Linked DNA regions of Homo sapiens. The protein of the gene in region 3 purifies or fractionates together with the protein of the main gene of each other region. This does not show direct contact. Each region holds a gene or a part of one and is shown on either strand. Other genes may lie near its edges. The genes, in order: MGME1, NBR1 and THEM5.

Region 1 (2,956 bases), on a different chromosome or scaffold from region 3:
CCCCTTGATCCTCCCATCTCCTACCTGAATATTGCTTTCCTTGCTAGGTGACCGTGGCTGAGGGCTTAGTGAGGAGGCTTTTTTTTTTTTTTTTTTTTAAACGGAGTCTCGCTCTGTCGCCCAGGCTGGAGTGCAGTGGCGTGATCTCGGCTCACTGCAAGCTCCGCCTTCCGGGTATACGCCATTCTCCTGCCTCAGCCTCCGGAGCACCTGGGACTACAGGCGCCCGCCACGACGCCCAGCTAATTTTTTGTATTTTTAGTAGAGACGGGGTTTCACCGTGTTACCCAGGATGGTCTCGATCTCCTGACCTTGTGATCCGCCCGCCTCGGCCTCCCAAAGTGCTGGGATTTCAGGCGTGAGCCACTGCGCCCAGCCGAGGACGCTTTCTTTTATGCACTTACACAGAACTCTCACCAAAGCTATTGGGCTTGTAAAATTCTGAATTATAAAAAAAGTGCAAACAATTTCCAGGTTTATAAAATTATCCTATAAACACACAAAGTAAACAAAACCAAAGCTTCATTACTCATATCTTGTATTTTATTTCTTATGAAAATGGCTACCCAAAGAAGTCATTGTAGCAGGCTACTATTTTAAGGCAGCAACTGTATAACTTAAATGCTAAGACTCACTCCATAAGACAGAAAACCCTTCCCCAGGGCTGTAATGGGCATTTAAGTTTCCCAAACCCAGGGACAACTAATTTTTATTACCTATTGAATAGAAACAAATGGATTTTAATAGTTCCCCTCCCCTATAGCTGAAAAACTCCACAAACAATAATTGACTCTATCTACATGATCTGTTGACTCACGCCAGAAATAGTTACTAAAACACTTAGAATTGTGATGTTCAAACTGGCCTCTGGCTACTTCTGGGGGGTTATTTGGTGTTACGCAATGACATATTGCCAGCGACATGGTGAATATACTGTCTTTATAGTCAGCAATGTTTAGTTGAGGCTAATCACGTATTTATTTTTTCAAAAGGTTAAATGTAAGCTTTTCCCAGCTGAAATATATAGAAAACCCCAATGTATGAAACAAGTTTTAGGCATTGGTGTTGGCAGCGGTAGTGGGCTGATGTGTCCTCCCTGCACACAGCTGGGGGCATGTAGCCCCTTCCCCTCTGGGTGAACCCTGGGGAAATCTTGGCACCCTCAGCCTCACTGCCTTCCAATCTCAGCTCAAAGACTGGGCATCCTGCCTGGGACCACGCCCCCCCCCCCCCAATGTCCCTCAAGGGAGTACAAGAGTCACCAGCATGACTGCCCATCCTGCGTGTCCTCCTTTCAGGTAAATAAGAGGTAGCATAGCTGGGATTTCGCGTGCCGAAGTCTAGGTCTTTATATCTAGACTTTGGGGCTTTTCAGTCTTTTTGGTAACAACACATTTCAACAAATTAATACTTCTACTTGTGTTCGTGTAGCACTCAGATCCAGTGGCACCTCATTTTTACACTGGAGTAAACAGCAATATATGTTCCCAAACTGTGAGAAGGTGCTGAATGTTCCCAAATAGCAACTTGCTCCCTATTCTGAATATTCTGGTTTCTGAATATTCTGGTTCTTTTTCTTTTCCGTATATTCTTCTAGTCGAAGAAGCCACTTGGTCCAGTACTGGGAACAGAGCTCTGCATCCATGAAATGTGGGTGGGCAGGTGATCCATCTTTGTAGGCCACCACAATTAAGCCACATTGAACCTAGGAAGAAACACAGGGCAATTCTCGTTTCACTACAGTAGGTCCAGAGTTTAGGTTCGTTTCCTTCTTACTCCAGGGCAAACTCAGTATAAAATAATCTACAGGATATCTCCTAACTCAGTTTCTAAGGTAGGTTGATCAAAGACTGCACCAGGACACAAGAACACAAAGATGACAGATAAAACATTGAAGACTGGGCTGTGATCCTTACAGAGCCATTGAAAAAAAAAAAAGGCCCAAGAAGAGGGTGGAAAAGTGCTTTTTTTTTCTTTTTTGAGACAGGATCCCACTCCCATCGTCCAGGCTGGAGTGCAGTGGCACAATCTCGGCTCGTTGCACCCTCGAAGCTGAGGCGGGCACCACTTCCGGCTGATTTTTCTATTTTTAGTAATGATGGAGTTTTGTCACGTTGCCCAGGCTGGTCTTGAACTCCTGGGCTCAAGCAATCTGCCCACCTCGGCCTCCTTCAAAGTGCTGGGATTACAGGCATGAGCCACCACCCCTGGCCAAAAAGTGCTATTTATTTATTTATTTATTTATTTATTTATTTGGAGAGAGACAGTCTTGCTCTGTTGCCCAGGCTGGAGTGCAGTGGAACAACCTTGGCTCACCGCAACCTCCGCCTCCTGGGTTCAAGCGATTCTCCTGCCTCAGCCTCCCAAGTAGGTGGGACTAGAGGCACACACCACCACGCCCAGCTAATTTTTGTATTTTTAGTAGAGACAGGGTTTCGCCATGTCAGCCAAGCTGGTCTTGAACTCCTGACATCAGGTGATCTGCCCAACTCGGCCTCCCAAAGTGCTGGAATTATAGGCTTGGGCCACCACACCTGGCCTATTTATTTATTTTTGAGACAGGGTTTTGCTCTGTCGGCCAGGCTAGAGTGCAGTGGTACAATCTCGGCTCACTGGAACCTCCACTTCCTGGGCTCAAGCAATCCTCCCACCTCAGCCTCCCAAGTAGCTGGCACAAGTGTGCGCCACCATGTCCAGCTAATTTTTGTATTTTTTTTGTAGATACGGGGTTTCACTATGTTGCCCAGGCTGGACTCAAACTCCTGAGCACAAGCAATCTGCCTGCCTCGGCCTCCCAAAGTGCGTGAGCCACTGTGCCCAGCCAAAAAGTGCTTTTTTAAGTGGGAAAGGAACAAGGAAGACGTTAAGCAATGGGATAAAAATAGAGATTAAAAAAGGAAAAACCTCAAGGAGTTCTATTTTTTAACTTTTTTTTTTTTTACAATTTTTCTCCTCC
Region 2 (3,653 bases), on a different chromosome or scaffold from region 3:
CCTGAGTTGATAATTATGAAAGAAGCTAGCTTATGGGTCCATAGGGATTCATTATATTCTCTCTACTTTTGTATAGATTTAAATTTTCCCATAAAAATATTTTAAAAAATAGTCCGGGCATGGTGGCTCACGCCTGTAATCCCAGCACTTTGGGAGGCCGAGGTGGGTGGAATCACGAGGTCAGGAGATCGAGACCATCCTGGCTATCACGGTGAAACCCCGTCTCTACTAAAAATACAAAAAAATTAGCCAGGCGTGGTGGCGGGCGCCTGTAGTCCCAGCTACTCAGGAGGCTGAGGTGAGAGAATCGCTTGAAACCAGAAGGTGGAGGTTGCAGTGAGCCAAGATTGTGCCACTGCACTTGAGCCTGGACGACAGAACAAGACTCTATCTCAAAATAAATAAATACAATAATATAAAATAATTATATTATTATAGTTTGGTTAAAACATTAGTTGACTATGGTCAGTTCATTGTTGGGGCAGAAGTGGGAGATGCGGGGGTATATGTGAATGAGGATAGCCTTGAGTTGATTGTTGGTTTAACTAAGTGTTTATTACTCTCCACTTTTATATATGTTTGAAATCCCCCATTTAAAAAATCAGTACAAGGCCAGGTGCGGTGGCTCATGCCTGTAATCCCAGCATTTTGGAAGGCCAAGGCAGGCAGATCATGAGGTCAGGAGATCGAGACCATTTTGCCTAACACGGTGAAACCCCGTCCCTACCAAAAATACAAAAAAAAAAAAAAAAATTAGCCGGATGTGGTGGCGGGCACCCCAGCTACTCGAGAGGCTGAGGCAGGAGAATGGCGTGAACCCAGGAGGTGGAGGTTGCAGTGAGCTGAGATCGTGCCACTGCACCCCAGCCTGGGGCGATAGAGCGAGACTCCGTCTCAAAAATAAATAAATAAATAAAATAAAATAAAAAATCAGTAGATTGTGAAAAAACATAGTAACTTGGATGGAGGGCATTGAATGCTACCTCTGTGTAGTTTCTTGGCTAGTGTTTTGGCCTGTAAGTTCGTAAAACTGGTAGAAAACCTAGGTTCTCAAGTTAGGACAACCCTCCTTCTGCAAGAAAAATGTAGAATGTCACTCTCAAGTCATACAAGAATACAAGTTCCCTGAGGGCAGAGACCTTATCTCTCTTATCCATGTTGGTATGTCCTGCTACTAGTAAGTATTTGTTTAGTTAACCAGTCATCATAAAGTACCGTAAGGATTTTACAAATGCTAGATGATTTCTGGGAATGTGGTCAAAATTTAAATACTTTCAGCATACTTCTGTTTCCACATGTTTCCAACATGTGGAAGTTCCTAATAACTTCAAGAATAATTTTTGTGACTTAAGTACAAGTCTTTATGGCATGGTTTTAGCCTATCTTTCTTTCCTGAAACAATTCCTATTTAACAGTGATGGTAAGTTTCGTAAGAACAGGGACAGTGTTTCTTTTGTTCATTGCTGTCTCCCAAGCCCAGCCCATATTGGGTCCTCACAAGTATTTGCTGAGTGAACTTTTAGTGCAACTTATAGAACCCTTTCTAATGTGTTTTTCTCTCTCTCCCACCAACCTTCTCAACCCTAGCCTCACAGCATGGAACCACAGGTTACTCTAAATGTGACTTTTAAAAATGAAATTCAAAGCTTTCTGGTTTCTGATCCAGAAAATACAACTTGGGCTGATATCGAAGCTATGGTGAGTGTTACTTTATTTTGTTTCTCCTTGGTTTAAGCATGGTTATTTTTTCCAAAGGTAGCTATTTTTAGCAGTGTTGTTTCATAGCTGTGAAGTCTGTCATAGTTACCATTTCTGGGCCTTTTGGAAAATTGCTTTTGATAGGGTTTCAGTATTCATATATGAGATGTGCCCCAATAAAGGGAACCAACACATAAATTTCCTTTTGAACATTTTAGAAAGGGAAGGTAAAATTGTTTTTAGTGAGATAGGATTTAGAAAACCTATTAATTTTAGAACCAGTATGAGGAGTGAATTGGTGTGGACTCCACCCAACCAGATCCCAAGGAAATGTTCTCTTGTGTGAGGATATGACTTGTGTTTTGCACAAGGATATAACTTGTGTTTTGCAAGAGCCTATCAATTGTTTTTATTGCTAGGTCAGAGGTTGAGTATCTCAGAGTTGAGCAGGAAAAACTTTCATACCTGCTTAGACAGCAGTTCACCTGTTCCGTTTTTTTGCTAAGGCTTTTCCTCCTCTTGGTTTGCCCTTTGTACTCTTCTGTTTTTGTTCAGTTTGCAGTGGTGAATGTTTTACTTCCTGTGTTGACTGTGTTTCTCTCTGAAACCCTTTGGTAAAAATCTACGTTTACCTGGTTATATCTGATGATAACTAAAAAGGGAAAGAAATGGTAGATCTTAAAAGATGATCTGAGGTAGTTGTCTGCCTTCCAGCAAATACCTGTTCATACTGTCCTATCAGTGACAGTGAGACCCGTCTCAAAAAAAAAAAAAAGATTGGATTCAGAAAGAAGTTAGATCTTGTTTGCCAAAAGATGTGAAAATCAGTTATCTTTCTTTTCCTAGTAGTTAAATGAGCTGACAGCTTGCCTTTTTTCTTCCTTGTAAATTTTAAATTGTATAAGTATAATACATGCCCATTTTAAGAAGAGAAACCATCTCAAGCAGTTAATAGCCCTCCATTCTCCCCCCCCTCATCTGTTACTCCCACCTTCTTTGGGTAACCAATGTTAACAGCCCTGTATGTACTTTAAATTTTCCATGTTCATGCAGATATCATACTAGGATCATACTATAAACATTATTTGGCCAGGCACAGTGGCACACGCCTAGAATCCCAGCACTTTGGGAGGCCAAGATGGGTGGACCACTTCAGCTCAGGAGTTTGAGACCAGACTGGGCAACATGGTAAAACCCCATCTCTACCAAAAAAATACAAAAATTAGCTGGGCCTGGTAGCAGGCACCTGTGGTTCCAGCTACTCCGGAGGTTGAGGTGGGCGAATTGCTTGAGTGCTGGAGGTTGAGGCTGCAGTGAGCCAAGATCAAGCCACTATAATCCAGCCTGAGCGACAGAGTGAGACCCATCTCAAAAAAAAAAAAAAAAAGATATTTTTCGTTTTTTTTTTTTCTTATCTTGAAACTTCAGGAGATATCCATCTATACACATAACTTATACACTGTTCTACAGGATAAACTCTGTCCTATACAAATGTGAGATTAATGGGTCACAAAGCATTTTATTTGAAATTTTAATAGATTCTGCCAAATGCTTTGCAGAACAATTGTAGCAGCACACAGAAATACATGACAGTGTCCTGAAGTTTTGACAACACTGGATGTTATGGCTTTAAAAAACATTTGCTGTTCCCTACCCCACACCCCACCCAAAACACACACACACACACACACACACACACACACACACACACACACACACAGTTTGGTATTCTGATGAGATGTCATCTCATTGCTTCAATTTGCATTGTTCTGACCACCAGAAAGTTTGAAAGTCTTCTGATGTATTTGTTAGGTGTTCTGATTTCCTCTTGTATGAATTTTATGTATATTTTTACCTGGGTTGTTAATTGTATCATTAGCAGTTTTGCTGGTACTCTGGGTGTGTTGCAGATATTAACCCTTTGTTATGGGTTATTAAGGTTGTTTGTTGTTTGT
Region 3 (3,753 bases):
ATGTGAGATGCCCTGGAAGGATTTTGATTTCCAACCACAGAAAGGCCCTGGGCCGAGAATGGGACTGTGAGACTTTATTTACTCAGAGAAAAGGGTCCTTTCCCTCGCCTCACCAATTGCTGCTTGAGGACCCCTCCCTGCTCTTTGATGGGTCCCAGGCAGGCAGGGGAGGCAGGAGGCAGGAGGCAGGCAGGGGAGGCAGGAGGCAGGAGGCAGGCAGGGGAGGCAGGAGGCAGGCAGGGGAGGCAGGAGGCAGGAGGCAGGCAGGGGAGGCAGGAGGCAGGAGGCAGGCAGGGGAGGCAGTGGCTCTCCTGCAGGCACAGTGACTGTTACTGGGGAGACTCTTCTTCCAACTGCAGCTGAAGGAAAACACCTGCAAGAGAAGGGTGAGTTGAGCTGCAAGAGCTGCACTGAGATGGCTGGAGCTTGATGGACACTCTGAGCATTTGGCTGCAAATTACCCATTACCTGGGTCCTGTCCTTTCGTTACAGGTTGGATAACTCATATATAGAAAAAAAAATCCTAGTTCTGCTCTCCCTTGCTTCATCTGTGTCCCTAGTAGGTGCCCTATCCCACCCCTAAAGAAGCTGGACCGCAGCTTGGGATGAATCATTGGCATCTTTTCTTCCTCCTGTTTGTTCTGGGGGTGGGTGGTGGTGGGACGGGGCCTGGGGCTGGGCTGGGGGCTCCTTTACCTGAGGACTTGGCATAAACTGTCTGCTGGTCTCTGCTGTGGGCGATGCAGGACATGTAAAGCTTCTGGTCCTCAATCTTGTCCAGTTCTACGTCCATTACAACCAGAGAGTCCACGGGGATCAAGCTGGGAGACGAGGCAGCTTAGCCCATCTCTCATGTGAACCCGGTTCCCCATCCCTTCACTCTCTGTGTCCTCTTCCCTCTCTTCATCCCTCCCGGCCTCGAGGACTCAGAAGTGGCCCTGGGCTCAGGGCCTTTTTGTCAGCTCCCAAAGTTGGACAGCAGAGGCTGTGTCCTGGCCAGGGACTAGAGGAATTGCTTGGGAGTGGGCTGGGGAAGGAGAGTGGCAGGCAGGGCTCCTACACCCCAGCTGCCGAGGATGGCCACTTCCAGGGATGAAAAGGTCTGTGACTTTGGCCAATGCCCCAGGGGCCCATACTTACTTTTTGAACCTGATGTTGAGACTTAGTGTGAACAGCCCCTCTCCAGCCAGGAAGGCAGTTTTAGAAAAGGTCTCGTCCATCATGGCTGCCAGGGACCCGCCGTGAGCAAACCTGGGGGTGGGGTAAGGTGAGGAGCAAGGCCTGGGCTGGGGCTGCTGGGCAGACCCCCTCAATGGGCCTTCCCTCCCTCCTGTGGTGATCCTACCTTTCCCTTTCCCTAGACCCTTCCAAACACAGACGTTCAGCCTCAGGGCAGCCAAATAGGAAAGAAGGAAACAGCTGCATCCCATCTGATCAAACCCGTCAAAATCAACTGAGCTTTTCTGTTTTGCTTCAGCATGCGTTTGCAGCCAATGATACAACATTTTATTTCATCAGGGAAATTGTTTTTTTCTGATAAAGTTAATAGAAAACATTTTTCTGGTTCATTACCTAATTGCTGGCAATAATTGCCATAATTTGGAAGGATGGGCATATACAGGAAATGAAAAAGTCCCTGAACTTTTTGACTCAGTCTTTGAGGCACAACCCTGGGCTGTTTCTCACCTTACCAGTCACTACAGCCAGTGCGGGGCCCACATCTCAAGATAAGTAAATGTGAAACATAACTTATGACCTATCAAGGGCTGGCATGACACACTTCTGAGCAGCGTTGCCACAGAAAGCAGAGCGCCTGCTTCAGCAGGCTCAATGCTGAAATTGAGCTGAAATGCTCAAATGCCGCAGACATTTGCTTTATTTAGAATGCATAGAATGGCCAGTCGCAGTGGCTCACGCCTGTAATCCCAGCACTTTGGGAGGCTGAGGTGGGCAGATCACTTGATGTCAGGAGTTCGAGACCAGCTTGGCCAGTATGGTGAAACTCCGTCTCTACTAAAAAATATAAAAATTAGACGGGTGTGGTGGCAAGCGCCTGTAACTCAGCTACTCGAGAGGCTGAGACATGAGAATCGATTGAACCCGGTGGGTGGAGGTTGCAGTGAGCTGAGATTGTGCCACTGCATTCCAGCCTGGGCAACAGATCAAGACTGTCTCAAAATTAAAAAAAAAAAAAAAAGCGTAAAATGTTCATTCTTGCTTTTGCAAGCTTTATGTCAGCTACTTCATGGTTGGCTAATTTGGGAAAATAGGCACCCATTTTAGAATTCAAATAACACCAAGCAGATTTGAGTTCCTGATTTTCAAAAGCACAGCCCATTCTCCACAGAGCCAGATCAGCTGTCCACACTGTACTGCCATGGGTTACCCTCCTGCTGCTGTGACCAGTGGCTTTTCCAGACCCTTCCCTCCCTGCTTCTTTAGTCTCTATCCACCCAGTTGGACTCCTTGTCCCACAGCTCACTACATGTTTGATCTTGAGCAAATTGCTAAACCTTTCTGAGCCTTAGTTTTTCCACCATGAATTTCACAATTCTGATCTCAGCAGATTAAATAAACAAATGTTTGCAAACATAATTTACACACTTCTTAGGCACTTCCCTGTCTGCCTCCCAAATTGCTTGAAAGAGAGTGAAAAGAGTTGGTGTCAAAGAACTCGAAACCAACTCTCTCCTCCTTGTCCTCACTGGCCAGCCTGGGGACCCATTGGCCAGTATGTGGATCTACAGAGTAGCTCTTGGCCAACGAGTAACTCCTCCTTCCCACTCCCCATGGTCTAGGGGCCTGGTGGATACTAATCTCTTCTCTAGACCCCCAACCCCTCAATCCACTGACTGGCCTTAGTGTTGGATGGTCCTCCTCTGCCTCTTTGGCCTCACTTCCATCAGCCCCTAAATAAAAGTCAGCCATGCTTCAGAAAGGAGGGAGTCCATGGCCTGGGCAGGGCTCTGAGCAATTCACTAGTATCTGCACAGCCTAGTGTGTGGAGCAGTGTCCCTGTGGAGGACTCCTTTGGGATGGCCAAGGTGACTGAGGGCTGCAGTTGGCATCCACAGCCTCTGGAGGCCCTGACATCTATTTAGCACTCTGGATTCTATTTAACCCCAGTTAAGCCCCTCTCAGGCTTCAGGACCCTAAAGCCACTCCTGCCCTCTCTTGTCTCTCCCTTGCAGGAGCTCCAGCACCACCTCCAGCCTTCAGTGACTGTCTGGAGCAGGCATCCGGATGGAAGAGAAGGGGGACAACCATGAACTTGGTGACCCACGGTCAGCCTGATTTCCCTTGTGGACACATTTATGCCCAGTGTGCATTCCTCCTGAGGTCTGTTCCAAGTCTGGAGGCAGCAGAGTAGAGTGGAGAGAACAGTGGACTTGGAATCTCACCTCCCAGATTAGAGTCCTGGATCTGACTTTGATTGCTGGTGCTGCCTCGGGCAAGTTACTTTAGCTGTGTGCATCTCCATTTCCCCATGGATAGAACATGGGTTTTGGGTAGAAGTGTCTGATAGCTGTACTGTGCTTTACGGTTCATGAGCACGCACACATAGGCCCATAATATCATATCTCTGGTCACCCTGGCAGGTAGATATTATTGCCCCAGGTTTCAGGTAAGAAGACTAAAGACCAGGGGTCAATTGCTTGCTCAGAGTCCCACAGCCAGCAGCAGCCAGGCAGGACACCAAGTCAGAGTCTAGATTCCGGATCTTGCCCTCTTCCAAGTGTACCACATTCTTCT

Evidence for each region.
Region 1: the proteins of THEM5 (region 3) and MGME1 purify together in Homo sapiens (affinity purification with mass spectrometry; one large-scale study listed by BioGRID and IntAct). This does not show direct contact.
Region 2: the proteins of THEM5 (region 3) and NBR1 purify together in Homo sapiens (affinity purification with mass spectrometry; one large-scale study listed by BioGRID and IntAct). This does not show direct contact.

The regions. Positions count from the first base shown.
Region 1 is NC_000020.11:17,988,688-17,991,643, reverse strand, and holds the end of MGME1 (mitochondrial genome maintenance exonuclease 1 isoform 2 precursor), read right to left. Parts: intron 1,706-2,956; coding exon 1,535-1,705; coding exon of another isoform or gene 1,458-1,534; 3' UTR 522-1,457; downstream 1-521. UniProt on the Homo sapiens protein: Metal-dependent single-stranded DNA (ssDNA) exonuclease involved in mitochondrial genome maintenance. Has preference for 5'-3' exonuclease activity but is also capable of endonuclease activity on linear substrates.
Region 2 is NC_000017.11:43,174,204-43,177,856, forward strand, and holds part of NBR1 (next to BRCA1 gene 1 protein), read left to right. Parts: intron 1-1,587; 5' UTR 1,588-1,596; coding exon 1,597-1,698; intron 1,699-3,653. UniProt on the Homo sapiens protein: Ubiquitin-binding autophagy adapter that participates in different processes including host defense or intracellular homeostasis.
Region 3 is NC_000001.11:151,847,042-151,850,794, forward strand, and holds the end of THEM5 (acyl-coenzyme A thioesterase THEM5), read right to left. Parts: exon of another isoform or gene 3,192-3,753; intron 1,252-3,191; coding exon 1,141-1,251; intron 822-1,140; coding exon 697-821; intron 374-696; coding exon 330-373; coding exon of another isoform or gene 79-329; 3' UTR 60-78; downstream 1-59. UniProt on the Homo sapiens protein: Has acyl-CoA thioesterase activity towards long-chain (C16 and C18) fatty acyl-CoA substrates, with a preference for linoleoyl-CoA and other unsaturated long-chain fatty acid-CoA esters.